Linked DNA regions of Homo sapiens: regions 1, 2 and 4 are each linked to region 3. Evidence: fine-mapped expression QTL. A gene starts in region 3. Each other region holds a variant in brackets. All regions are shown on one strand. Distances are between the middles of the regions.

What was found. PIP is the estimated chance that this variant, and not a neighbour inherited with it, causes the effect.
Region 1: its variant is fine-mapped to the expression of NOP14-AS1 in whole blood (TOPMed, PIP above 0.99).
Region 2: its variant is fine-mapped to the expression of NOP14-AS1 in whole blood (TOPMed, PIP 0.93).
Region 4: its variant is fine-mapped to the expression of NOP14-AS1 in lung (TOPMed, PIP above 0.99). The same link has a PIP of 0.9 or more in testis.

Annotation. Positions count from the first base shown.
Region 1 is chr4:2,997,744-3,005,847 of GRCh38, forward strand. It overlaps GRK4 (G protein-coupled receptor kinase 4), which reads left to right. Exons shown (of 16, transcript NM_182982.3): 5 at 6,488-6,591. Among named protein-coding and RNA genes, the nearest start is that of GRK4, 38 kb to the left of the region's middle. The variant G/T (reference allele first, on the strand shown) is at 5,020.
Region 2 is chr4:2,855,265-2,863,368 of GRCh38, forward strand. All of the region lies in intron 1 of ADD1 (adducin 1), which reads left to right. Among named protein-coding and RNA genes, the nearest start is that of ADD1, 15 kb to the left of the region's middle. RefSeq lists a silencer at 4,474-4,543 and enhancers at 6,725-6,804, 6,886-7,598, 7,599-8,104. The variant A/G (reference allele first, on the strand shown) is at 3,090.
Region 3 is chr4:2,931,940-2,940,043 of GRCh38, forward strand. NOP14-AS1 (NOP14 antisense RNA 1) reads left to right here and starts at 3,607. Exons shown (of 4, transcript NR_015453.2): 1 at 3,607-6,203; 2 at 6,754-6,853. SLC75A1 (solute carrier family 75 member 1) reads right to left here and starts at 2,886. Exons shown (of 13, transcript NM_001146069.2): 1 at 2,830-2,886; 2 at 1,814-2,005; 3 at 1,628-1,724; 4 at 1,167-1,270; 5 at 661-819; 6 at 412-573; 7 at 106-214. The coding sequence starts at 1,984. It overlaps NOP14 (NOP14 nucleolar protein), which reads right to left. Exons shown (of 18, transcript NM_001291978.2): 16 at 7,588-7,706; 17 at 7,249-7,404; 18 at 5,997-6,991. The coding sequence ends at 6,892. RefSeq lists enhancers at 357-406, 1,127-1,356, 1,377-1,506, 1,599-2,466, 3,724-4,923 and 2 more and silencers at 2,307-2,526, 2,756-3,065, 3,226-3,335.
Region 4 is chr4:2,881,346-2,889,449 of GRCh38, forward strand. ADD1 (adducin 1) reads left to right here. Exons shown (of 16, transcript NM_001354761.2): 3 at 553-715; 4 at 3,170-3,321. Among named protein-coding and RNA genes, the nearest start is that of ADD1, 42 kb to the left of the region's middle. The variant G/C (reference allele first, on the strand shown) is at 4,487.

The sequences.
Region 1 (8,104 bases), 66 kb after region 3:
CTAAAAATACAAATATTAGCCGGCCATGGTGGTGCACGCCTATAGTCCCAGCTACTGAGGAGGCTGAGGCAAGAGAATCACTTGAACCTGGGAGGCAGAGGTTACAGTGAGCTGAGATTGCACCACTGCACTCCAGCCTGGATGACAGAGTGAGACTCCATCTCCAAAAAAAAAAAAAAAAAGTAAAAGACTATATGCTTTCCTTTAAGATTAGGAACAAGACAAGATTGTGCACCCTCACCACTTCTGTTCAACTAGGGTCAACTGTAAGTTCCATTGTACTGGAGGTTCTAGACAGGGCAATTAGGCAAGAAAAAGAAATAAAAGGTATTCACCAGGCGCAGTGGCTCATACCTGTGATCCAGCACTTTGGGAGGCCAAAGCGCGTGGATCACCTGAGGTCAGGAGTTTGAGACCAGCCTGGGCAACATGGTGAAACCCCCGTCTGTACTAAAAATACAAAAATTAGCTGGGCATGGTGGTAGGCACCTGTAATCCCAGCTACTTGGAAGCTGAGGCAGGAGAATTGCTTGAACCCGGGAGGAGGAGGTTGCAGTGAGCCAAGGTTGTGCCATTGCACTCCAGCCTGGGCAACACAGCAAGACTCTGTTTAAAAAAAAAAAGAAAAGAAAAGGTATTTAGATTGTAAAGGAAGAAGTAAAACTCTATTTGCAAATGACATAATCTTGGATATAGAAAATTCTAAGAAATTCACACATACACACATAAAGAAAAAGACTGTTGGAGCTAATAAGTGAGTCTGGTAAGGCTGCAAGATACTAAGTCACTATACAAAATTTAATTGTATTCCTATATATTAGCAATTAAAATCCAAAAAAAAAGAAATTAAGAAAGCAATTCCCTTTGTATAGTATCAAAAAAGAATAAAATACTTAAGAATGAACGTAACAACATAAGTGTAACACTTATACTCTGAAAACTAGAAAGCACTGAAAAAAATTAAAGAAGATCTCAAGAAATGGAAAGACATCTCCTGTTCGTGGATCAGAAGACTTAATATTGTTAAGATGGCAGTACTCCCCAAATTGATCTATAGATTCAATATAATCCCTATCACAAGTCTAACTACCATTTTTTTTTTTGCAGAAATTAACAAGCAAGCTAATCTTAGAACTCATATGGATAGTCAAGGGACGTGGACTATAACATTCTTTAAAAAGAATGTAGTTGGAGGACTCGCACTCCTCAATTTCAAAACTTAGTACAAAGCTACAGTAATCAAGACAGTATGGTCCTGGCATGATGGTAGACATACAGCAGTCAATGGTATGGAATCGAGAGTGCAGAAACAAATTCATGCATTTTGTCTTAGTCCATTTAGTGCTGCTCTAACAGAATACCTGAGATTGGGTAATTTATAAAGAACAGAGATTTATTTCTTACAGTTCTGAAAGCCGGAAGTCCAAGGTCAAGGAGTCCAATCTAGTGAGAGCCCTCTTGCTGCATCATCCATGCAGAAGAATACGAGGGTATGCACACGCCTGGGTGGGGAGTGGTGGAAGGGGCTGAGCTTAGCTTTTTATCAGGAACCTGCCGCAATGCCGCAACAATAACAAAACCAGTCCTGAGATTGCAGCATGAATCCATTCCTGAGGGGCAGAGTCCTCATGATCTTATCACCTTTTTAAAGGTCCCACCTCTCAACACTGTTGCATTGGGAATTAAGCTACCAACACATGAACTTTGGGGCACACATCCAAACGATAACACATTAACAGTCAATTAATTGCCTTATCACAAGGATGCCAAGACAATTCAACTGGGAGAAAGAATAGTCTTTTCAATAGATGGTACTGGAACAACTGGATAGCCACATGCAGAGAATCACACGGAAGCCCTACCTCATTCCATAAACAAAACATTAATGCCAAATCCATCAAAGGCCTAAATATAAGAGCTAAAACTATACAACTCTTAGAGGAAAGTGTAGGTGTAACTCTTCAATACCTTGAAATTAGGCAGTGACTTCTTAGATATGACACCTAAAGCACAAGCAACAAAGAAAAAATAGATAAACTGAACTTCATCAAAATTTAAAACTTTATGCTTCAAAGAACACTATCAAGAAGTGAAAACATAACCAACAGAATGGGGAAAAGGATTTGTAAATCAAATACTGGTAAGGGTCTAGTATCCAGAATATATAAATAACTCTTACAATGCAACAATAAAAAGATGACCCAATTTTTTAAAATAGGAAAGTAAATGTAATTTTCAACACAGAAAAAGAAGCATATTTCTGCAAAATCCACCCTCCCTTCCCTCTCCACCAGTGGTCTTTCCTATTAGAATTTCCTCTGCCTAAAATTTTAAAAAGCAAGGCACTAAGTCATTTGGTAAATTTGCCCTGGTAACTACTTATTCTGAAAAACAATGATTGATCCTTAATGTAAAGCCCCAGAAGTCTCAGTTCTGCATCAGGCTGGTAGTTCTGTACCTTACCTTGCCATACTTCAGGTCACCTTAGCTTACCTCCCTCTCTCTCATGGATATTAGAAACACTGCTTTTCCTTTGTGTGAGAATAAATAACTATTAATATAAAAATTTTCTATGATATAGAAAATGGGAACACTATTTGGTGTTAATCATTAAACGGTCTTGATAGAATCAACCTGCTATTTAGTTTCAGAAAAATTGAGACTTTGGAGGGGAAATGACTGTTAAAATATTGTCTTTGTCTTCTGAGAATATTTTGTCTTGTTTTCTGCTGTGTCCAGTGCCTGGAACAATGCATATTTGTGGAGCAAATGAGTGAATGAACAAACTTCTTTTCTTTCTTTTTTCTTTTCTTTTCTTTTCTTTTCTTTTCTTTTTTTTTTTGAAACAGTCTTGCTCTGTCACCAGGCTGGAGTGCAGTGGCACAATCTCGGCTCACTGCAACCTTTGCCTCCTGGGTTCAAATGATACTTCTACCTCAGTCTCCCGAGTAGCTGGGACTACAGGCACGTGCCATTATGCCCAGCTAATTTTTTTTTTGTATTTTTAGTAGAGATGGGGTTTCACCATGTTGGCCAGGATGGTCTCGATCTCTTGACCTCGTGATCTGCCCACCTCAGCCTCCCAAAGTGCTGGGATTACAGGCGTGAGCCACGGCGCCTGGCCCAAACTTCTTTTCTTAAATAGGAAAATGAATGGACCGATCTTATTCTTATGACAGCCTTGCTGCATAGAAAGAAAGGACTGGAGAGTCCAGCAGGGTGTGTGTGTTTCAGTCTTGGCTCTCCCCTTGGTGATGCAGGTGCACTGGAGAGGGACTTCCCAAGTCTCTCCTCATCCATCAGGGTGGTGGTTGTAGGGCTAAATGAGACTATATATATATATATATGTGTGTGTGTGTGTGTATATATATGTATATATGTGTATGTGTATATATATAGGTATATATGTGTATGTGTATATATATGTATATATGTGTATGTGTATATATATGTATATATGTGTATGTGTATATATATGTATATATGTGTATGTGTATATATATACATATATGTATATATATGTGTGTATGTATGTATGTATACACATACATATATATGTATATATGTGTGTGTGAGTACATATACACACACACACACACACACACACACACATATATATATATATATTTTTTTTTTTTTTGAGATGGAGTTTCGCTCTTGTAGCCCAGGCTGGAGTGGAGTGGCGTGATCTTGGCTCACTGCAACCTCTGCCTCCTGGGTTCAAGTGATTCCCCTGCCTCAGCCTCCTGAGTAGCTGAGATTACAGGTGCCTGCCACCATGCCCAGCTAAATTTTTGTATTTTTAGTAGAGACAGGTTTCACCATGTTTGTCAGGCTGGTCTCGAACTCCTGACCTCAGGTGATCCACCCTCCTTCGCCTCCCAAAGTAGTGGGATTACAGGCGTGAGCCACCACGCCCGCCCGAGACCATAGTTATTGAAATGCCTCAAATGTATTAGATAATTTAAATGGCAGCTACTAATCATGATTAATTGTGATAATATTGTTGATTTTTTAAAATGTGAGTTTTCTTATTGTTTACTATCTTTCAACTTATGTTAGGAAATAACTGATTTATAAACACAGATTTCCTCTGGTCGCTTGGCCCTATCACAGTCAGAAATCAGTCTGGAATGCATTTCTTGTTTCTAATTACAAATTAGGTGGACAATTGAGCATGACTTGGGTATTTTTTCATTGAATCTGGACAGTGGTTTTGTCATGTGTTTCCTTTTTCCAGAATTCTCTGGATGAGGGTTAAGGAGAGCAGGGCCTGGGCACCTGGAACACTGTGAGTGGGAATACAGAGTGGCAGAGCCTCTTTGGAGGGCAGTTTCACAATAAATATGAAGTTTAAAATGCTTGCATCTTTTTGAGCTGGTAACTCTGTGTTTAGGAATCTATCCTATAGAAATACACATGTATAGAGACGTTCACGGTGGTGCTGTTTGCGTGGGAAAACTGGCAACTAGGATGTAACTGGGGGCAGATAAACTCATACACCGGGAGACCGTGCAGTCACTCAAGAAAGTGGGGTAGCTCTATAGACGTCAGCACATACTTTAAACACTGGACCCAGGCTGGGCACAGTGGCACATGCCTGTAATCCTAGCACTTTTGTAGGCCAAGGTGGGCAGATCAGTTGAGCTCAGGAGTTCAAGACCAGCCTGGGCAACGTGGTGAAACACTGTCTCTACAAACAATACAAAGATCAGCTAGGTGCAGCTGGGCACAGTGGCTAACACCTGGAATCCCAGCATTTTGGAAGGCTGAAGACTTCCAAAGGATCTCTTGAGGTCAGGAGTTCGAAATTAGCCAGGCGTGGTGGCGGGCACCTGTAATCCCAGCTGCTTGGGCGGCTGAGGCAGGAGAATCGCTTGAACCTGGGCGGCGGGACTTGCAGTGACCCAAGATCATGCACTGCACTCCAGCCTGGACCACAGAACAAGACTCCATCTCAAAAAAACTAGCCAGGTGTGGTGGCATGCGCCCATAGTCCCTGCTACTTGGGAGGTGGAG[G/T]TAGGAGGATTGCATGAGCCCAGGAGGTGGAGGCTGCAATGAGCCGAGATTTTCTGTCTCCAAAAAAACCACAAAACTGAACATATATTTTTCCCATTTGCATGAGGAAAAAGAAACTATCTGAAGAGGTGTGTGTGTTTGATTTTTAATTTTAATTGTGATAAAAAAACACGTAACATGAAGGTTACCAACGTCAGCATTTGTAAGTGTGCACTTCAGTAGTGTTAAATATATTCACCCTGTTCTGCAGCCCATCTCCAGAACCGACCTTTTCATCTCACAGAACTGAAATTCTGCGTCCATTCAACAATTCCCAGTTCTCTCCAAGCGCCTGGCAACCACCATTCTACTTTATGTCTCTATGAATTTGACTACTCTAGGGACCATATATAAGTGGAATCATACAGGATTTGTCACTTTGTGACTGGCTTCTTTATTTATTTTTGAGATGGAGTTTCGCTCTGTCGTCCAGGCTGGAGGGCAGTGGCACAATCTCAGCTCACTGCAACCTCCGCCTCTCAGCTTCAAGCAATTCTCGTGCCTCAGCCTCCTGAGTAGCTAGGATTACAGGTGCCTGCCACCACGCCTGGCTAATTTTTGTATTTTTTAGTAAAGACAGGGTTTCACCATGTTGGCCAGGCTGGTCTTGAACTCCTGACCTCAACTGATCCACATAACTCTGCCTCCCAAAGTGCTGGGATTACAGGGGTGAGTCACCATGCCGGCCGTGACTGGCTTATTTCATTTAACATAATGTCCAAAAGGTTTATCCAAGTTGTAGCGTATTTCAGAATTTCCTTTTTTTAAAAGGCTGAATAATATTCCACTGTGTATATATACTGCATTTTATTTATCCATTCATCCACAGACACCTGGGTTGTTTTTTGCTATGGTGAATTATGCTGCAATGAACATGGGTGTGCAGATACCTGTTTGAGACCCTGCTTTCCATTCTGTGTGTGTGTTTTTTTGTTTGGTTTGGTTTGGTTTGGAGACGGAGTTTCACTCTTGTTGCCCAGGCTGGAGTGCAGTGGCGTGATCTCAGCTCACTGCAACCTCCGCCTCCCAGGTTCAAGTGATTCTCCTGCCTCAGCCTCCCAAGTAGCTACCTACCACGCCTGGCTAATAGTTTTGTATTTTTAGTAGAGACGGAGTTTCACCATGTTGGCTGGTCTCAAACTCCTGACTTCAGGTGATCCACCCACCTCGGCCTCCCAAAGTGCTGGGATTACAGGCGTGTGCCGTTGCATCTGGCCCTGTGTGTGTTTTGATATGCATCGGAGAAGATCTGAAAAGGCAGACAACAGCAGAACTCTGGAGAGTGGGACGGGGTGGAGGGTCCAGGTGGCACTTTGACTTTCATTTTATACACTTTGTGTTTCATTTTTTTACAATAAGCATTAGGTTCTGTTCACTAGTAAGTTATGAAATCACTAATGGTTATGTATTTGGTTTGTACTGTATTAAGTTGGCAGCCCCTTTACCAGAAATACCTCCAGATGTTGTGACAGAATGTAGATTGGGACTGAAGGAGGAGAACCCTTCCAAAAAAGCCTTTGAGGAATGTACTAGGTAAGTGGTTCATGCTGAGCCCTGCATATATTATCTATGACTAACCCCAAAACAGACAGCTTTCAGGAGGTTTCTCTGCATAAGACAAGTTCCTAGAGTGTAGTTGACCCTTGAACAACATGGGCATTAGGGACGCTGACACCACCCAACCTTCTGCGCAGTTGAAAATCTGTGTGTAACTTTTGACTCCCCCAAAAGCTTAACTACCATTAGCCTACTGTTGACCAGAAGCCTTACTGATAACATAAACAGCAGATGAACACATATTTTGTATATGTATTATATGCTATACTCTTACAATAAAGTATGCTAGAAAAAATAAAGTGTTACTAAGAAAATCATAAGGAAGAGAAAATATAATTCCTATTCATAAAGTGGAAATGGATCATCATAAAGGTCTTCATCCTCGTCATCTGCACGTTGAGGAGGCTGAGGAGAAGGAGGAAGAGGAGGAGCTGGTCTTGCTGTCTCAGGGGTGGCAGAGGCGGAAGAAAATACATACATAAGTGGCTCCTGGCGTCTCAACCCGCATTGTTCAAGGGTCAACTGTACTTTACACATTAAAATGATTACTTCCTCTAGAAAGAGGTGAATGAAGAGTAATAATTCCATGTACACACGAGGCACACTGAAGGGGGTCCCATCGTTTAGCACCAGTATCCTAGCATCCCTGTGGTGACTCCAGGCCCTCTCTGCTCTGCTTGTGTCTAGGACAAAAAGATTTTTTTCAGACCTAGGTACTCACCAAAAACATCTTTTTTCAGGGCATTTCCAAGGAGAATTCCGAGGTAAAGCACTTTGGCTAAATTCAGTTTCTTTACATATGCGGGATGAAAGAACAGTTTCTGAGGTGATCAGGCCCAAAATCTGCAGTGCCTTGTGTATGCATGCAGACAGTCACTCATGTCACAGCGGAGGAAACGGAGGCCCAGGGAGCCATGAGAAAGTTTATTCTTTGCTCTGAGAGCAAGCAGATGACATATGCATTGTGTTTAAAAAGATCGCTCTGGGTGCAACTTAGAGGTTAAAGAGAGGGAAGATGGGGTCCAGGAGATGAGCCGGCGAGGCCGTTGCAGCTCACATGTGGCAGGGAGTGGCGCACCTGAGCCAGTGCAGTCCGAGCATAGTGGGGCTGGGGCTGGACCCTGATGCTTTAATGATGCGGCTGCCTCTAAAATAACACACAGGCCGGGCGCGGTGGCTCACGCCGGTAATCCCAGCACTTTGGGAGGCCGAGGCGGGCAGATCGCTTGAGGCCAGGAGTTCAAGACCAGCCTGGCCCACATAGAGAAACCCCATCTCTCCAAAAAAATGCAAAAATTAGCCAGGCCTGGGGGTGTGCGCCTGTAATCCCAGCTACTCAGGAGGCTGAGGCATGAGAATCACTTGAACCTGGGAGGTGGAGGCTGCAATGAGCCTCCCCTGTACTCCACTGTACTCCAGCCTGGGCAACACAGCGAGACTCTGTCTCATAAATAAATAAATAAATAAAAATAAAAAACAAGGCTTTCTC
Region 2 (8,104 bases), 77 kb before region 3:
TAAGTTACCTGTAATTTCTGTCTTTTAACTGGCATAATTTAGTACATTTATGTTATGATTCAGATAAATTTGTACTTTCTTTATCATCTTAGGTTTTGTATTCTGTTTGTCTTTTCTCCCCATGCTTGCCTTTTTAAACAACTGGGAGTTGTTTGTTTTTCTTTATATTCTTCCATCTTTTGGTTTGGAAATGACATACTCTTAATATTCTTTTAGTGATTACCCTTGAAATTTTGCTATGCATATTTAACGAAGTCTAAAACTAATATTCTGTCGCCCTCCTAGATACAGCAAAGGCATGAAAGTTCTTTAATTCCAATTATTCAACTCTCAAGTTACATGCTGCTGTTGTTCAGTGTTTTAGTCCAGACTTTTTTTTTTTCTTTTTAAAGAGACACAGTCTTGCTCTGACACTCAGACTGGAGTGCACAAGTTTTTTTCTTTTCTTTTTTTTGAGACAGGTTCTCACTCTGTTGCCCAGGCTGGAGTGCAGTGGCGCGATCACAGCTCACTGCAGCCTTGACCTCCTGAGCTTTAGTGATCCTCCCACTTCAGCCCCCAAGTAGCTGGGACTACAGGCACATGCCGCCATGACCAGCTATTTTTTGTATTTTTTTGTTGAAACAGGGTTTTGCCATGTTGTGTAGGCTAGTCTCAAACTCTGGGACTCGAGATCTGCCTGCCTCAGTCTCCCAGAGTGCTAGGATTACAGGCGTGCACCACCATTGGGCATGGTGGTGCATGCCTGTAGTCCCAGCTACTCGGAAATTATTTCACACAAGTTCTTTTTTAAAAAAAAAAAAAAAAATAGAGACGAGTCTTACTATTATGTTGCCCAGGCTGGTCTTGAATTCCTGGGCTCAAGTATCCTCCCACCTCAGCCTTCCAAAGTGCTAGGATTACAGGCATGAGCCACCACTCCCAACCTTCACCTAAGTTCTTGAAAGATAATTTTGCTTGATATAGAAATCCAGATTGACAGTTATTTCTTTTCAGCATTTTGGAGTTATCCTACTGCTCTCTACTTTTGTTGTTTCTGTTGGCAAGTTTGGCAGTAGTCGGTTTGTTATTCCCTTGTAGGTGATCTGTCTTTTTTTCTTCTGGCTTCTGTTAGAATTTTCTTTTCTTTATTTTGGCCTTGGCTATTCTGCATATTCATTACAATGTGTGTAAGGTATGGATTTATCTTTATTTATTTTGCTTGGTTTTTGTAGATTCATGTCTTTCAGCTCTGGGAAGTTGTCAGCCATTTTCTTTTGGAATATTTACTGTTCCCTATTTATTATTTCTGCATGTTACTCAAGTAAATGGTTACTAGAGTTTTTTTTTTTTTTTTTTTTTTCCTGAGACGGGGTCTTGCTCCGTTGCTCAGGCTGGAGTGCTGTGGCATGAACTCTGCTCACTGCAACCTCCACCTCCTGGGTTCAAGTGATTCTCTCGTCTCAGCCTCCAAGTAGCTGGGACTACAGGCGTGCACCACCATATCTGGCTAATTTTTGTATTTTTAATAGAGATGGGGTTTCACCACGTTGGCCAGGCTGGTCTCAAACTCCTGACCTCAGGTGATCTGCCCACCTTGGCCTCCCGAAGTGCTGGAATTACAGGTGTGAGCCACCACACCCAGCCAACGTTCTTATTCTGTTATTTTTTATTTTTTATTTTTTTTGAGATGGAGTCTTGCTTTGTCGCCCAGGCTGGAGTGCAGTGGCGGCATCTCAGCTCACTGCAACCTCCACCTCCTGGGTTCAAGCAATTCTTCTGCCTCAGCCTCCTGAGTAGCTGGGACTACAGGCTCATGCCACCACGCCTGGCTAATTTTTTGTATTTTTAGTAGAGACAGGGTTTCACCATGTTAGCCAGGCTGGTCTTGAACTCCTGACCTCATGATCTGCCTGTCTCAGCCTCCCAAAGTGCTAAGATTACAGACGTGAGCCACCACACCCGGCCAGGGCAATTTTTTCAAAGCTGTGTTTTAATTCGCAAATTCCTCTTTGTATCTAAGCTGTTACTCATTTTTTGACCTAAAAATTCAATTTAAATTTCTTTTATTCTAAAAGTTAGCAGGTGTGGTGGTGCTCCTGCAGTCTCAGAGTCCCAGCTACTCAAGAGGCTGAAGTTAGAGGATCGCTTGAGCCCAGGAGTTTGAGACCAGTGTGGGTAAATCGAAACCCTGTCTCTACATAAAATACAAAAATTAGCCGGACATGATGGGGTGCACTTGTGGTCTGAGCTACTCAGGAGGCTGAGGTGGGAGGATCACTTGAGCTCAGGAGGTGGAGGTTGCAGTGAGCTGAGATTGTGCCACTGCACTCCAGCCTGGGTGACAGAATGAGACCCTGTCTCAAAAAGAAAATCTGAGTGGTAGGGATTTTCAAGTATTTGCCTTAGTTGAGGTCTCCAAATGGAAATAGTGATTGGGCACTAGTTTAAAATGTACAAAAGGTGTATTCAGTGTGAGGTTGGTTCCAAAGTGCACGGTTTGACAGCCCAGGGAGTGAGTGAGGTGTGTTGGTGTGTTTTCCATGATACAGGGGAACTGACTCCAGTATGGCCAGTATACGAGACTTTGGTAAAATCATTACTTTGTTCTGGAACTCTATTTTAGCATCTGTAAAATGACTTCTAAAGTTCCTTCTGGGGCAGAAAATACATGCTTCTAAGGTTCTGTCTCATTGCTTTTTTTTTATTTTAGTAATTTAATAAGCATTTATTTAAGATCTGCTGCATTCAGAGCATTGTGTTAGGAATATTGGAAGTAAAGCATTGTAATAGCTCTTGCCTTCAGTAAGCTTGCAGTCTGGCAGTTGGATTAAAAAAATGACCATACGAAGCCGTGATAACAGCCTCTAGGAGGGAACTCTACTATGTGGTGGAGATATGTGTCCCCCTGCAAATACCAAGAAAGACAGTTAATTAGTGTCCATTACAGAATGTTCTTCTGGTGTCCTTTTTAAAGAGATTCAGTCAGTCTTTAAAGATGATGCTATTGCTGCTACTGCTAATAATAATAGTGATAGCTACCACTTACTGTTTACTATGTACCTTGTGCTAAACACTTGACATAAGTTAACTCGTTTAATCTTAAACCA[A/G]GGAAGTAGATAATGATTCTCATTTTACAGATGAAGAAACTGAAATAGACAGAGATGAAGAAATGTGCCTAAGGTTACGCGGTTTAGTGAACTGGGATCAGAACCTGGGTTCTCTGGCCTTAGACTATAAACCATAGATAGGAATTGAGCACATTTATTAATCAGCATTGCAAGGCTGGTGGAATTTTGATAAACACCCAAACCAGATTCTTTTCTGCACTAGTGATACCAGACAGATTTTGGAAATATAAACAGGATAGGGTGCATTAAAGTTCACTCACATTTGTTCAGTTAAACAGATGGTTGGCTTATCTTTAGTTGCTTCACTCAGTCATTTCCAAAACCACACCCAAGGCCAGGCAGTGGCTCATGCCTGTATTTCTAGCAGTTTGGGAAGCTGAGGTCAGAGGATCACTTGAAACCAGGAGTTTGAGACCAGCCTTGGCCACGTAGTGAGACCATGGCTCAACAAACAAAGAATAATAAACATATTTACTATTATGGGACGTCTATGTGCCAGACATTGTGCTAGACATTTTACATTTATTATTTCTAATTGCCCCAACAACCTGGGAACATATCACCGAGTGTATTTTATTACAAATGTGGAAACTGAAGTACAGAAGACAATAAGCCTATGAAGTGATCGTAGGGCGTTGCTGGTACAAAGTCAAAACCTGCATCATTGGGCCCTGCGCCTCTATGTCTGTGGGGAGAAGGGATTGTTGATGATGTGATAGCTGGAAAACATACCATTCATCAAAATAAATCCCAGGTGGATTAAAAAGAAATGTTTAAAATTATAGAGGCACTGTGGAGAAAAAGCAAAATAAAATGTTTATCAGAGATAACGCCTTAACATTTTCTTGGAACATTTTATTAGATGTGTGCCTGGGAAGGAATGATAACTTTCTTTTTAAAACCAGAAGAAATCACAAAGGAAAAGGTTTGTCAACCTAAATATGCAAAATGTTAAAATATTTTCTTATTGAAAAATAAAATTATAGAAGATAGTAGTCTGAGAATGACAAATATGATAAAAGGGTCAATACCTGTACTATTTTTTTCAGATGTGTAGAAATAAATACATCAAGATCTCAACAGATATGTGTACAAAGGAAATCATAGGCCATGGGAAATTTTAAATGTAAATAAGCATATAAAAAAATTCATGCTCACATACTGAGAGAGATGCCAAATAAAGTAGACATTTCTACACTCCAGCCTTGGCAACCGTGAGACCCTGTCTCAAAAAAGCAAAACCAAAGCAGACATTTCCCATCTACCAAAACAGAGAAATTTTAGTGATAGCCTCTGCTTCCTTTTCGGAGTATGTAAGCCAAAAGGAAATGAAACTTTTTATTTAATCCTCACCCATTTTGGAGGTTTTCTTTACTGTAAGGTTTCCTTTCCAGTGTCAGGCTTAACCTTCAAGCAGTTACCACTTTAGACACATTGTTTGCTGCCATTTCATTCAGCAGCTGCGTTATTCATAAGATCACTTTATAATGACATACTTTTCCATCTTACTGTTTTATAATTATTAAATGGTTCCCCTGATATTGCTCCATTTTTTTTTTTTTTCAGGAGAAACATTCTCAGGTTAGTACTGTTAATCCCTCCTTACGTGTTTAATTAGATTATAGAGTGTTGGTTTTTTCCTTCCTTATAAAATCTTACGTAGAGTTTTCTATACTGATGTGTCTGGTCAACCTGTGCTTCCTGACTTAGCTGAGTCTTCCTGCAGTCTTTATGGGGTTTCATAAAGTGAGCAGGTACCATGCTCACTTAGTTATAACTTCCCTGAGGTCTAGAAATCTCCTTTTCTTCTTTTCTTATTGTCCTACCTCTGGGAGTTGTTTGTGTGAGCTTTAGTCTCCAAATCGAGTCATCTAGAGGCAGACATACTAGCTACGTTTGCTTTATCAACTTTGGGAATTGACGTGATTTTGGAAACATAAGACCTTCTTAATTCAGAGATACAAAACCCAATTTGATATGCAGATTGTCCATTTGCAGTCTGGAATTTCCTTGTGAGTGGCGAACTTGTGAGTGAAATTTGGAGTGTTTTAGTTTGTTGCTGTACTCCAAGGGTCTCTTCAGTCGGACGTCAGTTGTGATTGAATGAAGCAAAGCAAAGGTTTTTCTTAGTCATATGCCTCTAGAAACAAAACTTAGATTAGCGTTGTTAGTCCAAAATGTTAGATCTGGAAATGTATTTGTTCTTCCATATGTATTAATTGAGAGACTATTACGTGACAGCTCTGTGAATACAGTAGTGAATGAGACAGACCAGTTTCTTGTCCTCTTGGGAGTTTTATTATACTAGGGGAGATAGTTTATTTCTGACAGTAATACTAAGAGTTAACACTTAAGTACTTCCTATTTGTCAGGCACTTATTCTAAGCATTTTACATGCATTAACCTGTTGTTAAACTCATATTTCAAATGTGGAAACTTCCACCAGGGAAGTTAAGAAATCTTGCCAAAATTACAGAGTCAGTAAGTGGCTGAGCTGGAGTTTGAACTCAAGCAGTCTAGCTCCAGAGTCTGTGCCCTGATAGTGATGGTAAGTACTTTGAAGGGTAAGAAAACACAAAAAGTCCAGGGTGATTTGAGAGAGCTGGGAGTGGGGACTATTCTAAATAGGGTGGGCAGGGAAGCAAACTTCAAAATTTCCAGTTGAAATTTGACCTGCAGCCTAACTGATAAGGACTAAGGCATTCAAAGTAGCTGGAATAAATTCTTTGTTCTAGGCAGAGAGGACAGCAAGTACAAAGACTCTGAGGCAGGAAGGGGCTGGGAGTGTTTGAGGACAGAAGGGAGACTAGTGTGTCTGGGAAATGGTGAGCAAGGGAGCGTGGGGGCTGGGGGCCAAAATGGGAAGGCCCCTGCATATTGGGGTCAAGAGTGCAGATTTTATTCTAGGGACTGTGGGAAGCCATTGAACTCTTGGCCCCAAGTGGTCCTTGGCCTCCCAAAGTGCTGGGATTACAGGCATGAGCTACCACTCCCAAATTAAGTAGGGTGCGACATTTAAATATATTAATACCTTTATGGAGAATGAATTATTAAGAGTTTATGAGTTTAGATACAGAGAGACAAGACTAGAGATTAAGAGTCTTATTTTGAATAAGTTAGGTTTGAGTAGACTTTAAATATTCAAACAGATGTTTTGTTGGCATTTGGACATACAAGTTTGGCCTCAGGGAAGAGTTTAGGGCTAGAGATAAAAATTTGGGGCCCATTAGTGTATATAAATCAGTGGTTCTCAACTGTGAGTGCACATTTGACTCACCTTTAAAAATGCTCATGCCCAAGCTCCATTCCTAGAGATTCAGATTCTGTGGGTCTGGGTTTGGGTCTAGCCATGGTTTGTTTTAAATCTATCTAGGTGGCTCTAATGTATGACGAGGGCTGAGAACCACTGGTGGAGGTGGTATTTAGAGCCAAGGATGGGCCTGGATCAGTGTGATCCTTTAAGGCAAACTTGTCCAACCTGTTGCCCACATGTGGCCCAGGACAGCTTTGAATGCAGCCTAACACAAATTCGTAAACTTTCTTAAAACATTATGAGATTTAAGTTCATCAACTATCATTAGTGTTAGTGTATTTTATGTGTGGCCCGAGACAATTCTTCTTCCAGTGTGGCCCAGGGAAGCCAAAAGATTGGACACCCCTGGCTTAAGGCAATGGTATAGCTAGGGAAGACAAGCAGCTCAGGGTACTGGGGCAGCCCAGCAGGTAGAAGTTGGATAGAAGAGGTAGAACAGCAAGGGAGACTCACAGCAGTAGCTGGAGAGGTTGGAGGAAAACCAGAAACTGATGTCTGAAAACTGGAAGAGGACAGTGACTCCTGAAAGTGGGAGCAGCTGTGCCAGATGCTGCTGAGAGCTGGTAAAGTGAATGCGCTCAGAAGGAATTGAAACTAGCTTCACTGAATGGGTCTCAGAGGTTCAAACCAGGGTTTTAGGAGCTGTAGATTCAAATCCTACCCCTGACATTAGTTTTCTATTTAAAATTAAACAGGATGCTCTTTTCTTAGCCTCTTTTTATCTTTGCTTATTAACCAAAATGTAACTGAACTGTCTCAATGCTTAAAGAAAGGAGATGATAAACAGACAGCCTTATTCCCCTCTCCCATTCCCAAACAAAAGCCAGTTCTTACCTGGAGTTTTGGCTCTAGCTTTCTCTCTGCCTGGAGTGCCTTTCTGGATATATGGCCACCTGGCCTAGTGCTCTCACCACCTGTTTGTCTGTGAGTCCTTCCTTAGCTGTCCCCTTCTCTGGGAGCTTTCCTTTGCTCTTCCTACTTAATGATGTGACTCACCTCCCCACCCCCTGGACTCCCAGTTCCCTACCCATAGCACTTGTCGCCTTCTAACAGACTGTGTGATTTACTTATTTATCATGTTTATTGCCTGGCTTCCCTGCAGGAATGTAAGAAATCTTTGTTTTGTTCATTGATGTCCCCTGAGAATGTGGATTGCTGAGCAATGCCTGGTCTATAGCAGCCTCACAGTTAGTGCTTGGTAGATATTTGGTGACTGAGTGCTGACTCCATGAAAATGATTGTCATCCTTTGACTCTGCTCCAGTTGCATTTGAAAAGTTGCATGGGATCTGCCACTTCTCTCCATGACCCAACTATAGAGACTTCTGGAGTGTGGCTTCTCCCCTCTACCTCAGTACTGTCATGCCTATTGAATTTTTTTGAGACAGAGCTTCACTCTGTCACCCAGGCTAGAGTGCAGTGGGATGGTCATGGCCCACTACAGCCTCTACTAGGCTCAAGTGATCCTCTCACCTCAGACTCCTAAGTAGCTGGGACTACAGGTGCATGCCACCACGCCCAGCTAATTTTTAATTTTTTTTTTTTTTTTTTTTGGTAGAGCTAGGGTTCTGCCATATTGCCCAGGCTAGTCTCAAACTCTGGGCTGAAGCAATCTGCCCACCTCTGCCTCCCAAGGTGCTGGGATTACAGTTGTGAGCCACTGTACAAGGCTTTACTTGGAA
Region 3 (8,104 bases):
GGGAGAGGTGGCGCGTGCTGAGAAGGCGACCACAGCAGGGAAGGGCGCCGCCCGGGGAAGCCCAGGGGAGAGCAGGCTCCACGCTTGGGTTGGTCGAGTCCTTACTGTCTCCAGAGGGTGGGTCCTGGCCACGAGCGACAGCCGAGAAGCGCAGCAGGGCCAGGGGGCTGAGCAGATCAGCCGCATCACGGAACCCCAGGGCGATAGAGGGCGCCTGTGGGGATGGCATTGGAGAGCCTGCAGGAGCGGCTGCTGGCCTGGCAACCCACGGACTGTGGCCTCAAGGGTCCCAACACCAAGAGAGCGGCCCAGCCTCCCTGGCATCTGGGGCTGGCACACAGGGGCACTTTACATCGCTATGGAATCAAGCCTCCAGCCCCTAGGCCTGTGGGTCCCAGACCACAGCCCTACCCGTTTCTCCAGGGGCAGCGTCTCTGGCAGGAAGCAGAAGATGAACAGCAGGTCGGAGGCTGCGAAGAGCAGGGCAAACCAGGGTGCCATTTCCAGGGGCAGGGAGGCTCCGAGCATAGGGCCCAGGGTGAAGCCCAGTGAGAAGGCCACCCCAATGACCGCCTAGGGAAAAGACCACCCGAGCTGCACAGGGAGACCCAGGCCCAGAAGTCACCACCAGGACCCCAAAGGCCCAGCCTGTGCACTTACCATGCCTTGACTGCGGGCCAGAGGCGAGCCCAGGTCAGCAACGATGGCCGTGGAGAGGCTGACGTTCCCTTTGCTGATGCCCCCAATCAGCCTGGAGGCCAGGAAGGCCGCAAAGCTCCGAGAGGTGGCCCAGACTGCATATGAGGTGGCCACACCCATCTGCCCAGGGGCAGGGGCCAAGAGGCAGGGGCGGTCGCTTAAGGCCAGGAGTGGCTCAGAGTAGGGCTTGGCAACCCAGACAACACCCCTCAACCCTGCCCTATTTCGAAGCATCTGAGGGCCACTTGCGTTCTCAGTGCCTTCCTAGGGGCCAGGAGCAGCTCCTTGAAAGCCTGGCTCTGGAACAGGAGCCACTGGTCCCCCGAGAACCCCCTCCAGGATGCGATGAGGGCCAACCAGTGGCCATGAGGGGCCCACAGCCACCTCCCTCTCCCCACCTAACCCCATGGGGCTACTGGCTGGGTGGGAGGAGGCTTCCCCATGGGCACCCAGGCCCAGGAACATACCAGGCACAGCAGCATCACCGGGCGCCTCCCCAAGCAGTCAGAGGTGGCCCCAGTGAGTGGCGCACACAGAAACTGCAGGACAGAGAATGCCGAGCCAATGAGACCTGAGAGACAGATGTCACCATCATGGGGCTGCCTGGCACCATGAGCTGTGGTCTTGGGGCCCTCAAGGCCAATGTCCAGCCCCGTCCTGAGGGTCCAGTCATGCTGGGCCCTACACTCACAGGCCATGGCCCTTGAGCCGAGGGGGCCCCAATGGAGAGATGAGGAAGGATCTGAACGTGACACGCGGAGGCAAGGGATCATGCCCAGAAGCCAGGACATGTGGGCAAGGGCACCAGACATGCCAGCCCAGGGAGTGGGAAGGCAAGGACCGAGAATTGGGGAGGGGCCTGGGCTGGACCACGTCCACCAAACATAGGACCGTAGAGAGCCCGCCAAGGGCACAGAGCCAGCCATACCTCCGAACAGGACACTGTTGTACCTCTTCTCCACTGGCATCCCGATGGCGGTGGCAAACCAGTCCACCCCGCCCTGCCAGGAGCCATAGAGGGGGTCCTAGGGGATGAGGAATCACGATAAGGGCTGGGGAGGTCTGATGGGCCTGGGGGGCAGGGGGCACTGTGGGCCGCAGGGCAAGGACTCACGTGGGCACGGCCGTGGCTCTCCAACAGCCCGGGCAGCAGGGGCAGCAGCAGCGTGAAGGCCAGGAGGTCCAGCAGGAGGCCGAGAAAGACAACGGTGACCACGCGGCGCTCCGGCGGCTGCTGGTGGATGGGTGGGCGCGGGGTGCAGCCTCCACCCCCTCCCCATCCCATGGTGGGCTGCTCTGACCTGGCCTGGGTGGGGTGCGGCGGGTCGGGTTAGCGGGGAAGCCGAGTCCTCCGGGGCCTGGCATACCCCCACACCCGACAGCCGGCGAGCACCCTAAAGGGGCTGATGGCAGGGGCTCTGGCCTACGGACGCAGGGGCCGTTCTGGCCTGCGCGATGCCCCCGCCCCGAACCCAGGCAGCAGGAAACGCAGGCTTCGGGGATTGCACAAAAAATAGCCGCAAAGGCAACGGTCCTGAGAGACCAGGGTGAGCACATCGCGGACCTGGCCCCACCCCACCCCACGGCCGCGCCTCCCACGCCCTCGTAACAGCGAGAGAAAACTTGAAGCCGCGGGGAACCCGGATCCCGATCCCGATCCCGATCCCGATCCCAACCCCAACCCCAGCCCCGGCCCGCGCCCCGCGATTCCGGCCCCTGGCCCGGACTCGGTCTCCCTGGCGGGGGCCATGGGGTGCACACCGGACGCAGGAGCACCCCCAACCCCGCGCGCCTCCCACTCCGCCATCCCGCGTGCGTCCCGGTCCCGCCCCCACCCCGCGCGCCCCCGGTCCCGCCCCCCACCCTGCGCGTCCCCGGTCCCGTCCCCCACCCTGCGCGCCCTCTAACCCCCACGCCGCGCGCCTCCCACCGCCCCCACCCCGCGCGCCCCTGGTCCAGCCCCACACCCCGCGCGCCCCCTACTCCCCTACCCTGCGCACCTCTCACCCGCCCCACCCCCGCGTACCCCGGGTCCCGTCTCCTCCCCCACCCCGCGCGTCCCCTGTCCCACCCCCAACCCGAGCGCCCCCTACGCCCCCCACCCCGGGCGCCCCCGGTCCCGCCCCGCACCTGCCGCGGCTGCGCGCTCGGGACGGACGGTCGCACAGACGCGGAACAGGGCACCAGGCACGCCGCCAGGGGCGGGACGGCCACGCCCGGCCACGCCACGCCCCGGAAGTGACGTACATCTCTGCACGTTCTCTTCCGGCCGGAGTCAGTGGCGGGGTTCTCGCCGGTCCTGCGGGTCGCTGCTTGGCTGTGGGTTAGCAGCACCCTGAGCGGAGCGGAAGAGCTGCCCGCCGCCGCGTAACCCCGAGGCCGAGACTCCTGGCCTGGCCTCCTTGGGCCCACGACGCCTGCCCCGCGGAGCGGACCCATGGGCCTGAGGTTTGTGTGCGGGGCCTCAGGCGAGCGCTGGCGCAGCCTGTCCCCCATCGTCTGCGCCCTGCGGGCCTGGCCCTCCCCGTGGAAGGACCGCGGGCTTCGGGGCCCCACGCTGGGGGGCTGACTCCTGCCACACACACAGCGGTGGCCGCGGGCCTGGGGCGGCAGCACAGCCATTCTGCTCGGGCTGCGTGAGCTGACCCCGCTCTCTGTGCACCTACTTTTGCTGCGTTTGGTGCTGAGCCTGAAGTCCCAGGACAGGCGGCTGAGGGGGAAAGATGGTGTGAATTGGGTGGGCAGAGACAACTGAAAGCCACAGGACCCGGTTGGCACCTTTTTGGCCGCCTGCGCCTTTGCCTGCAGCCCCGCTCCCTGGGTCACCCGAAGGAGGAGCTGGCGCTCTTTCCGGGCGCAGAAGCACCCGACCCACGCTGGAGGAAACGGTCCCTCTGGGCAGGAGAAGCTTTGGGCCTGGCTGGAGCACACTCACGGAACCACGCCAACGCCTGGCCTGTAGCCAGCTCCCACCTCCCCTCCCACCTTCTAAAATGCTTGCGGATCTCACGTGGCCGACCCTAACCAGATACACATGGGGAAAGGAATCAGGTGGCACACATACCGCCTTTACTCCATAGAGAACTTCCAATTGTGGGTAAGAACAAAGCCCCACCTCTTCCTAATAGATGCAGTTTTCCACCTGCAGCCAAAAAGACAACCTGTTATTAGCTTTTTTCCCAGAGGACAGGCATCTCTATGAAACTGCCATTGCAAAATTTGCCGACAGTGAGATAACCAGCTCCATTTTGCTTCTAACCTCCATGCCCTCCTTGTTTACTGCTGCACGCAGGTTGAACTGTGGGAGGAACTTAGTTTAAAACAAAGATGATAACAGCCCTTTCCCAAAGGAAACCTTTCCTGGGGATTAGCCTGCTTTTGTGGGACCAACAGATTAGCCACAAGATTAGAAACTACGGTTGAAGAGTCACGCAGCGGGAGGCTACAGGATTCTGACCCTCCCCAAACTGCTCCTGGCGATAACATCACCATCGTAAAGCCTAAGATCAGCACTTGGTGGGTCACCTGGCACCACCCAGGCTCATCTGATGTTGTGGCACCCAGGAACTGACTCAGTGCGAAAACAGCTTCGACTCCCTGTGATTTCATCTCTGACCTGACCAATGGGTACTTCTGACTCACTGGCTGCCCCCCACCCACCAGCTTATCTTTAAAAACTCCAAACCCCAGATGCTCAGGGAGACCGAGTAATAATAAAACTCCAGTCTCCCACACAGCTAGCTCTGCGTGAATTACCTTTTCTCTGTTGCAAATGCCCTTTCTTGATAAATTGGCTGTCTAGGTAACAGGGAAGGTGAACCCACTGGGCAGTTACACTTTTATCCACCCTTCCAGCTGGATCACGCGCCCTCTTCAATGACATGACACGCAGCTAGAGTGTATGAGCTTGCTGCCGGCACCTTCCGTCCTGGATCGCATAGCAAGGCCTCAATGGACAGCCAGGTGCCTGGTCCGGTCCCACTTTTTTTTCTGTCCTGTTCTCGTTTCCTCTTTGCTTGGCCAAAGAGGGTTGGGCCAGGGTCCTGAGTGCAAAGGCTTGGCTTGGTGAATTAAAGTGGCAGTAGCCGTGTGGCAGAGAAAATTTGTAGATGGGTGAAATCCTGGGCCTACACAGTGACAAAGTGTATATAGACAGCCAGCCTAGTTGGTGGATGTGACAACCCCAGACTCTTCTAGATTTGTGGATCCGTGCACCTGCCAGACCTGTCTCTGAGCCATCTGGGGAGGCTGGGTAAGATTTCCCCCGTCAGGGCCTGAGCCTCATCTCCAAGCTGCTGGCTTCAGCCCAGCTGCCACCAGCGCTGTCTCTGTCTTGCGCTTTCCAGAGAGAGACTGACTCATTTTGAGCTCCAGGCCTACCAGGCAGCCCAACCGCGGCAGTAACTGCCTCTCACACTGAGGATGGCTCATGCTCTGGTCCAGCCATGGCTTGAACACCTCCCAACAAGAACAAAGCCAGACTCATTCTCCCTAGCATCTTCTTCCTTGCTCAAAGATCCCACACCCCGTTAGAAGCTGGAACTGGGTCCTTGTCACCTTCCTCACCTCCCCAGTCGTAGTCTGGTTAATCCTTACATCTCACCACGGTCACCGTGGCTAGATGTGACCTCCGCGATGCTTCAGGCACGTACCAGGGCAGCCTGGGCAGGGCTGGTCACTGTGATCTCATGAGGTGTGAACTTGACCCCGGCCTTCTTTCCTGGGATGCCGGCTAAGGACACAAGTTCAGTGTTTGCCCTGGCTTGTAGCCCAGCGGGGGCTCCGTCATCCCCTGGGGAATGCCTCGGCCTGCAAGACCGCATACCGCATTGGAACAGGGAAACCACCTACTTCAGCACCTCCCTCAGCAAGGTGGCAGGTCCCAACAAGCCTTGCACCACGAGGAAGTGGCAGTGGCATTCGGGATATGGCTCCCTGGCCAGCTTGTGAAGTTCAAGGGGCTCGTTACTTCTTACAGCTCACAGTCCCTCCCGGGTCCAGCACACCTGAGGGCTGACCTCCCTCTTGATTAGTGCAGGGGAAAAGCACTTTAAAAAGCTGTGTCATGCGTAACTTGCACATCTTCTGATTCTGACCTGAAACTGCATCCCAGGTCGGCACAGACGCAACCCAGTCTCCTCCCACCTCCGAGAGTGCAGTGTCCTGAATGGAGAACCCCAGCACCCAGAAGCATCCACTGAAGGACGTAAGTAGGACAAGGCCAACTGTGGCTGTTCCAGCAGAGGGACTGTGGGTGATGTTTCCCTTCTCTGATTTCTAAAATATCTGCAAACTTGTTTCATTTATAATTGAAAATATAATTTGCATAACAACAGTAAATTCTACACATGAAGGCAAACGTCCGTGGTTGACAGAAATTACACTGGCCAGAATCCCCAGTCCCCATGAGGCTTGTCCAGACGCAGTGAACCAGTCGCAGCTGATAACACACAGACCATTCCCGATCCCAGAGGTGCATTTCAGGATTCATTCTATTTCATCAGGTGACGTTTTAACAGAAACAAAACCGCAGGCAGCGGGTGGGGGGAGCTGGAGGTTGGAATCACACCAACATTATAGCATTATTACTCTAAAAAAAATTACTTTTTTGGCTGGGTGCTGTGGCTCACACCTATAATTGGGGGGCCAAGGCAGGTGGATTACCTGAGGTCGGGAATTCGAGACCAGCCTGACCAACATGGAGAAACCCCGTCTCTACTAAAAATACAAAATTAGCTGGGCGTGGTGGCACATGTCTGTAATCCCAGCTACTCGGGAGGCTGAGGCAGGAGAATCGCTTGAACCCAGGAGGTGGAGGTTGTGCCATTGCACTCCAGCCTGGGCAACAAGAGCAAAACTCCGTCTCAAAAAAAAAAATTTTTTTTTAAGCGACACAGTCTTGCACTGTGGCCGAGGCTGGAGTGCAGTGGCTCAATCACGGCTCACTGTAACCTTGGACTCAGCTCAAGCAGTCCTCCTGCTTCAGCCTCCCGAGTAGTTGGGACTACAGGTGCGTGCCACCACACTTGGCTAATTTTTATGTTTTTTTGGTAGAGACGGGGTCTTCCTGTGTTGCCCAGGCTGGTCTCGAACTCCTGGGCTGAAGCAATCTTCCTGCCTTGGCCTCCCAGAGGGTTGGAATTGCAGATGTGAGGTAATGTCCAGTTCCTTGCCTTATTTATAAAATGTAATTTATTTTTTGAACTTTTTCCTCTTCAGAGCCTTCCATTCGCCTTCCTGTGTAGCCAGGCTGTTAAAAAGCTGCTTTACTTTCCGCTTTCTTTCCGCATCCCTAAAAGAAACAAAAGGCAAATGCCCATTTTTGGATTAGTTCTTGGAGAGCATCTTGCCCTCTCTCTCCCACATCAGAACCACATTAGCCACCGTGGCCACGTTCAGTTCAAACAGGGGGAAGTGAACCTGCCTGGCTCCAACCCCCAGCCAGAGCCAAGGCTGTGGGATGCCAGGTGCCCGGTGCTCTGCCCAGGGCCACACAGCACCAAAGCTGAGTGACACCACAATCGTGTCGCACACACACGTCCCCCTCACCGTTCCATGATTTCTGAGAGTTGCATCCTCGCCAGGAACTGATTGTCCTTGCGGATTTCTCGAACGGCCCCTTTAAATTCACGCTTGTGTTTGTGGATCAGCCTCTTCCTTTCCTGTTCCTCCTTACTACTGCCTTGTTTTCTTCCAAACTCGAGGCTACAACCAGAAAGCCACTGTTAAGGAAGCAAGAGTCTGTCCCCACCTCTCAGCCAGAGCCTGCTTGGGAGTGTGGCTTCACTCCGTAGTCATCTGCTCAACTGCAGAACTGGCAGACGCCCCCCGTCAGCTCCCACTGAGCCCACAGCCCTGGCCTCCCAGGGAGATGCTGCCAGCACCCACACTTTGACCAGCCGGGGTGTGAAAAGCTTCAGTGGGACAGGCTTGCTCTTCTCACAGGTCAGCGGCCGGCAGAGCTGCTTCTGGCTTTCCATTTCGGTCAGTGTGCTCTGACACAGCTCCTGAAAAACACGAAATCCCCGACTCTGCGATGACTCACCTGCTGCGTGCCCTGAGCTCCACGCACGGGTTCTGTGGTGTCAAGGCAGCGTGAGGACAGTGCTGCGAGCTCCCTGCAGCAGGATGGTGCCCTTGCTGTGCGCCTACCGGTGGGCGGGGGGGTAAGCCAAGGCTGTGGCTGCTCAAGTCCTGGCACAGCCGGAACGAAGTAAAGCCACTGTCTTCTTGAAGAGGGAGGGCCGTGGGCTGGCCCCTGAGAGCACTCTCTGAAAGGAGGGGACTTGGGGAGTTGGAGGTCACCATAGCCTGTGCTCCTCACAGCCAGAAACGTCAACAGAACCCCTCTTTCCCAGACAAACTTGGCACGAAAGGCCGTGAGCCACTTGCTTCGTGAGAAGGC
Region 4 (8,104 bases), 51 kb before region 3:
TGGGATTCCAGGCATGAGCCACTGTGCCCAGCCAATGTATTTACTTTTAATCTTTTTCTATGTTTAGGTATGTATTTGCTGTAATAAGGACTGGTTATACTGCTTGATAACATTGTCACTCAAACATATATCAAGAGCAATTTTATGCCATTTAAGTTTTTTTAGCTTTTCATGTTGAATGCATGCGTAGAATTCCCAGTGTATTTGATCAGTCCTCTGTTGATTGAAACGTAGGATGTTTTTCCCTTTTATCAATAATACTGGAATGAACATACAAATGAATCAGTCTTTGAGCACTTCCTTGAATGTTTCCTTAAAATAGATTCCTAAGAGTAGAATTCCTGTTCAGAGTTTTAAGCTTTTATTGTATTAAATTACTTTCTAGAAAAGAATGTACCAGTTTATATTCTCAGCAGTAATGTGTGAGAATATCCGTTTGCCTTTCCAGCACTGGATGAAAACAAAAATTGGTCTATGTGATAGCTACTTCTGACCCCCTGCCCAAGGAACAGAAAATAAATGGTATCTCAGTGTTTTAATATTTTTTATTAGGCTTTCTGTGAAGAATTGGAATCAATGATACAGGAGCAATTTAAGAAGGGGAAGAACCCCACAGGCCTATTGGCATTACAGCAGATTGCAGATTTTATGACCACGAATGTACCAAATGTCTACCCAGCAGCTCCGCAAGGAGGGATGGCTGCCTTAAACATGAGTGAGTAGTTCCTGATTTTTAATATATGTTCTGTAGTTTTCAGGTAAAATTTCCTGAAGATTGCTCATGTGAAATAAGTGGGCATTTAACTGTATAACATAACAGAGTTGAGTATTTTGAAAATTAATGTGTTTTCGTTAGTCATAGTAAAAGATAGGCTGGAATTCTGAAATCATCTTGAATGTTGCAGACTCCTCTTTTCTTAGCCAGTGAGACTTTATTTCCGAGGCAGATGACTTTTTATGTGTCTTCCCAGCCCCTATGTAGATTAAAATAAACTAATAGAAATAATGCTGTGGAGTAGCACATCAGTTTTGCCTGGCCAGCATTTCTTACCTAGCATTCTTCACTGCTGTGTCCCAACTAGTGAGAAAGAGAAATTCTAAAAGAAAAGCCAGAGGAAAAGTACTGGATGGGTGAATGTGAGCAAAGAATGGTCAGCTGTGCAAGAATGCAGCTTTGCCATGGCAATTGAGTTTGCAAATGTTAACATGACAAAGCATCAACTAATCTGAGCCACTGCATATTGTACCTTGGATTAGTCTCTGATGGGTCTGGTTGGATAGTCAAATCTGATTGCCCGAAATAAGGTACTGGTTTCTGTTAGATCTGCTGACATTTGCTATTTACCTGTCTGCTCTGTGGTATTCTTAGAAGTTGAATAGCATTCAACAGATCTGATATATATTGTAATTAATGTCTACAGAATATTAAGAGTCACATTTAATCCATAGCTCAAACCTCCATCCTGAAATCACATGGCCACCACTAGGAAAGTTTTCATGTGGATTCCGTTTTTTTTTGTTGTTGTTGTTTTTGAGACGGCGTCTTGCTCTGTCTCCCAGGCTGGAGTGCAGTGGCATGATCTCAGCTCCCTGCAAACTACCACCTCCCAGGTTCAAGCTGTTCTCCTGCCTCAGCCTCCTGAATAGCTGAGATTACAGGCACACACCACCACACCTGGCTAATTTTTGTTATTTTTAGTAGAGACGGATTTCGCCATGTTGGCCATGCTGGTCTCAAACTCCTGACCACAAGTGATCCACTCGCCTCAGCCTCCCTAAGTGCTGGGATTACGAACATGAGCCACCACACCTGGCCCATTTCGTCTGTATTAATTAGCAAGAATGTTCTGTCAGGAGAAACTTCCCTTCAGTTCTTTTGGTTACCTGGTGATACAGTTTGTGTAGGAAAGGCAGGATCCCTTTCCGAAATAATAAGTTGGTTTCCAATCATCCTTCAGTGATGAACAATTAGTTTTTTTTTTTTTTAGTATTATTTGAATTTATGATTTAAACATAGTCAGTGTGTTTCACATCATTGCAGTTATTATCCGGATTTGTTGAGAACTTTCCTTCTGAATGGATGTTGAACTTTGTGAAATGCTTCTTTTCTTTCTGTTAAAATGATCCCTTAGTCTTTCTTCTTTAGTTTGTTATGGTGAATTATGTTTTTTTGTTTGTTTGTTTGTTTTGTGTATTTATTTATTTAGAGATAAGTTCTTGCTCTTTCACCCATGCTGGAGTACAGTGGCACGATCACAGCTCACTACAACCTTGAACTCCTAGGCTTAAGGGATCCTCCATGCCTTCCATGCCTGGCTAATTTTTCTCTTTTCTTTTTTTTTTTGAGATGGAGTCTTGCTCTGTCGCCTGGGCTGCAGTGCAGTGGCGTGATCTTGGCTCACTGTAAGCTCCGCCTCCTGGGTTCACGCCATTCTCCTGCCTCAGCCTCCCAAGTAGCTGGGAGTATAGGCGCCCACCACCACGTCTGGCTAATTTTTTGTATTTTTGGTATAGACAGGGTTTCACCTTGTTAGCCAGGATGGTCTCGATCTCCTGACCTTGTGATCCTCCCGCCTCGGCCTCCCAAAGTGCTGGGATTACAGGCGTGAGCCACCGCGCCCAGCCCATATTGGTTGTTTCTATCTCCTTTCTTTTGTTAAGTCTGGCTAGAGGTTTATCTTATTTTATTATTTGTATTTTATTTTTAAACTTCTCAGAGATTCAACTTTTGCTTTAATCAGAAAGCCTTAAAAACACTTTTCTTCTCTAATGTATACGTTTAATGCTGTAAATTTCCTTTTAAGCTTGCTTTACTGCACGCCACAAATTTGGCTATCTTTTTGTTATTGATTTCTAACTTAATTGTGTAAGTATTGGAAAACAGTCATTATGAAATTGTCTTTGAAGTTTTCAAGACTTTATTGTCTAATGTGGAAGATAAATATCTCAGAACCATTAGTATTTGATTTACATTTGATAAGAAATGTTAATATTTGAGGCTTTTTGGTAAGTCTCGCTTTGTTGCCTTGGCTATTCACAGCTGCTATCATAAGCACTACAGCCTCAAACTCATGGCTTCAAGTGATCCTCCTGCCTTAGCCTTCTGAGTAACTAGGACTACAGGCGTATACCACTGCACCTGGCTGAGTTTTGTTTTTCTTTATTTCAGGTCTTGGTATGGTGACTCCTGTGAACGATCTTAGAGGATCTGATTCTATTGCGTATGACAAAGGAGAGAAGTTATTACGGTGTAAATTGGCAGCGTTTTATAGACTAGCAGATCTCTTTGGGTGGTCTCAGCTTATCTACAATCATATCACAGTGAGTATTAAATGGGCTAGTAACTGAACGATAAATGAAATATTTTGTGTCTGGCACCACCTCTTTCCATTTAGGAGAAGAGGGAAGCAGGCTGAGCTTCAGTAAGTCTTGGAATACCTCTTCTGATTCCTGACTACAGAGTGTAATAACCTGAGAATCAGCCAGTTTGGGTTAAAAGTTACAGGAACAGCAGTTCTTGAAAATTTCTTTCTTGCGTGCTAACCTAATAAAACAACTAAGTGTTTACCAGATTATATGCAGTTTCTAAAATTATTTTTATGCTTAAAAACCTAAGAATGATGATGTTTTCTTTCTTAGTCTGACCAAAGCCTTCCGTCTCTCAAACTTATTTCTTCAGCTACTCTAGTTTTAACTATTTTTCAACATTATTAGGATCTCTTTTCCTTCATTCTGGGTATCTGCTTTCTCTGGACCAAGCGCTGTTCTAACTGTGGTTGTGTCAGTGGACAACATGAGTCCTTCCCTTGTGGACAGTCACTTCTTCATCCCAATCCATTAGCCTATTCTTCACTCCCTATTTTGTCCATCTTGTATTTCATAGTCCCTCATTTCAGCAATACTCTGCCAATCCTGTACTCTCCCTCCCAGCTTCTGAGTAGCGAAATCCTGCTGTGGAAGTCCTCCCACCAGAGCCCATTACCTTTCTCCATAGATTCAGAACCCAAATCTCAAATGGGCCAATGACTTAGCCTGGCAACCATAACTCATCTCTCTTACAACCTTACTAATATTTAAGCCTTCTCTACTATCTTTGAGACTCCTGACCTCCTTCTTCCACCAAATGACCTCATCATGTCACAGAAAAAATGGGTACCCTTACTGACATTTGTAGCCATTCTGTACTCTTGACCACCTGTTATAATGTCTTGCCTTCTGCCTGTGGCCAGACTTTGCTCACCTGGCTTGGAATTCCACCCTTCCTGCCTTCTTTTTTTTTTTTGAGACAGAGACTTGCTCTGTTGCCCAGGCTGGAGTGCAGTGGTGCAATCTCGGCTCACTGCAAGCTCCGCCTCCCGGGTTCACGCCATTCTCCTGCCTCAGCCTCCCGAGTAGCTGGGACTACAGGCGCCCGCCACCACGCCTGGCTAATTTTTTTGTATTTTTAGTAGAGACGGGGTTTCACCGTGTTAGCCAGGATGGTCTC[G/C]ATCTCCTGACCTTGTGATCCGCCCGCCTTGGCCTCCCAAAGTGCTGGGATTACAGGCGTGAGCCACCCTGCCCGGCCCCTTCCTGCCTTGTTAGATTCACAGTGCATTGCCAGGGTTCTTCTGTTCCTTCACTCTTTTGTAGAGATAGCTTCTTCCTTTGAACTGCTTCCTTCCTTTGGTTTTGAAACTTGTTCCAGTCTTCTGTTTTTTTCATGTAATTTCTTTTAAAGGATATTTTAAATTGTTAATACAGTGCCTGCTTTTTGTATCAAGTGTACCTTATGCAGATGTCTAAAGAAAAAGTAATTCCACCAATACTTCCATCTCTCTTGAGGCAAGCAGTGTGTGCGCTGTTCACGTTGCTGAAATGTTTCCTCCATACTCACACACACATGGGTTTTTCTGCACATGGACTCATAACCAGCGGTGCTTCGTTAAGCTCCATTCTGGACTCAGAGGAATGCTAAGCCTCTTGAGGTGACGGTCTGGAGCTCACCTTGTGATTAGTGTGTTGTGCCTCTGGGACTTGATATTGGTCTCTGCCAGAGAGACTGAGTTGCCTTCTATCCATCTGTTCTTGTTTCCGCTTAAATGAACTTTTCAAAATGTAAGCCTTACCATGTCATGCTCCTGTGTGCGGCACGGTCACTCTGTGTAGAATGTCATCGCTGCTTTATTCCCCTGTAGCAGTTACCCCCATTCATTCTGTATGTTTAGCTGTTGCTGTCCCTCTCTGCCCACAGGAATATAAATTCCACAGGGAGAGCGTCTGTTGTGGTCCCTGCTGTGGCCCCAGGACCCGTGGCAAAGAGTAGGCATGCAGTAAACTTAGGTGAAAAACTGAATGAAACCCCCGGCTGAACTGAAATTACCTCAGTGAAATTGTGAACAAGAGCTCGCTGGGACCTTTTGACATTTGATTGGTGGGTCCAGTTAGCCTAGCACAAATGCCAGCTCCCTTCCTGGTGCCTGCAGGGAAATTGCTGGCCTCTGTCATCTAATTATACTTGACAGAATGCTGTGGTGGAGATTAGTGCTAAGTGGTTGCCTGAAGATCAGTGCGGTGAAAATGTTACAGCTGTGATTGGAAACGTAACCCTAACTGTGATAACAGCTTCACCTTCTTCGCAGGTTTTAAAGTGCTGTTTGCCTAGTCCTATTTTGAATGCTGATTAAATAAGTTTGAATTGGTTAAATTGCTTGTTTTCTCCTCCTTTAATTGTTTAAGAATTGGCAAAATTAAAAAAGTGTTTTCTGTAAATTATCTCCTTGGGGCTTAATACCGAGTAAAAAGAAATGCAAGTTACCTAAAATGTTTCCTATGTCTTATAAACTAGAACTAGAGAATCTTTAAGGAAGAAAGGTTTTGGTTTATTTTGTTTTACTATTATGGCATCCATTTCTTATTTACTATCTAGGTATGGTATAGACGCTTAACAGAAAAGCAAATACAGTGTCAACAAAAAGTGACAGCAGGTCATTCTGCCCTTTCTTTGAAAGGGGGTCATAGGGATTTTCTGCTAAAGGGATTTAAAATTGCTAACAGGTGTTAGAAGATTGGAGATGATTGTCTGAAATAGATCTTTAAGATTGCATTGGATTTGGAGAAGTGTTTGTGGGGGCTGGGGGGAGGGGGACAAGACGGGGTGGCCCAGTTAGCACAGTGGACTGGGCTTCCTCTCTCGGTGGCACTTAGCTGATGGCTTGGCCTGCCCATTCTGATGTCAGTGGAATGCTGTCAAGGCTTTGCACCTGCAGAACCTGGCAGGTGCTTGTTCAACTCCATTCTGGATTCCAGAGAATGCTAAGCCTCTGAGGTGATGGTCTGGACCCACCTTTGTGACCAGTGCCCTGTGCTTCAGGGACGTGATAGTGGTCTCCTCTGGAGGTACTGAATTGGGTACTGCATTGGTCTGCAACAGGAGAGTCTCATTCTTCATACACAGAGAAGGGGCAGTACATGTGTGGGAAGAGACACAGGGAGAGCAGGGCTGGTCTGACGGGGAGGGACAACTGCAGAGGAAACTGACTTCAAAATATCCTTCTCTATTTTTACTTGATGTTTGTAATTTTGCACTTTCTCCTTTTTGCTTTAGATTCAGAGAATTGAATGTTTTAAGCCTCTAAAATTAAAGTATGTATTAATAGATCTGTTAGTTAAGCTTACAGTTGGAAATAAATCTTAAAATAAGTAAAAGAAGGAAACATTATTAATTACAGCGTTATTATTATTATTATTATTTTTGAGACAGGGTCTCACTCTGTTACCCAGGCTGGAGTGCAGTGGTGGAATCTCGGCTCACTGCAACCTCTGCCGCCTCGGTTCAAGTGATCCTCCTGCCTCAGCCTCCCAAGTAGCAGGAACAGGCATGTGCCACCATGCGCAGGTGTGCACCACCATGCCACTAGCTGATTTTAGTATTTTTAGTAGAGATGGGGTTTCACCATGCTGGCCAGCCTGGGCTCAAACTCCTGGCCTCAAGCGATCCGCCTGCCTCGGCCTCCCAAAGTGCTGGGATTACAGGTGTGAGCCACTGTGCCCGGCCCAGCATTATTTGTAATAATGAAATTATTATTATTATTATTATTATTATTATTATTTTAGGCAGAGTCTCACTCTGTGGCCCAGGCTGGAGTGCAGTGGCATGATCTCGGCTCACTCAACCTCTACCTTCCGAGTTCAGGCAATTCTGCTGCCTCAGCCTCCCAAGTAGCAGGGATTACAGGCACCTGCCACCACACACAGCTAATTTTTTTGTATTTTTACTAGAGATGGGGTTTCACCATGTTGGCCAGGCTGGTTTTGAACTCCTGACCTCAAGTGATCCGCCCACCTCAGCCTCCCAAAGTGCTAGGGTTATAGGTGTGAGCCACTGCACCCAGCCAATAATGAAAAATTTTAAGAGTCCTTAAGTATTCAGCAGTAGATAGGAAATGGCTCAGTTATTCAATATCAATTTGAGCAAATGTTGTATACTATGAAAAACAATTACAAAGATCATGTAGAACAAGTGAAATATGAAAAATGAAAGGTATCAGAAATGAGAAAATATGAAATATATACTGTTTACAGCTATATGAAATATGTACATATATATATGGAGAGAGAGAGAGAGACAAAAGAGAAATGACTAACAAAAATGGTTGTGTAATACTTTTTAAATGTGGAACCTGACAGCATGCTTCTAAAATTTAGATGGAAGAGCGGAAGGCCAAGAATAGCTAAGACACTCCTGAAGAACAGCTAGGCAAGGAGATTTTTCCTACCAGATGTCAAACTTAATATAAAGTGGTAATTAATATAGTGTCCTTTGGGCAAAGGAAGATGCAGAGGGATCAGTAGGGCCAAATTGCATGCATTGAAACAGACATGCTGTAGTCGGCATTGCAGCTCAGCGGGGTGGGGGATGGACTTGGCAATGATGGCTGCTGGGATGCTTGGGTAGAAAAGTCACAAGTGGAAATAATTATATGAGACTTCTATACTATACATAATCACAAAGCAATCCCAGTGAATTAAAGATTAAATGTGAAATGCAATACTTTAACAATTTTAGGACTAATATAGGTGAAAATCACTGGCCTTGAACCTCTGGCCTAAGGAGAGATGTCTTATG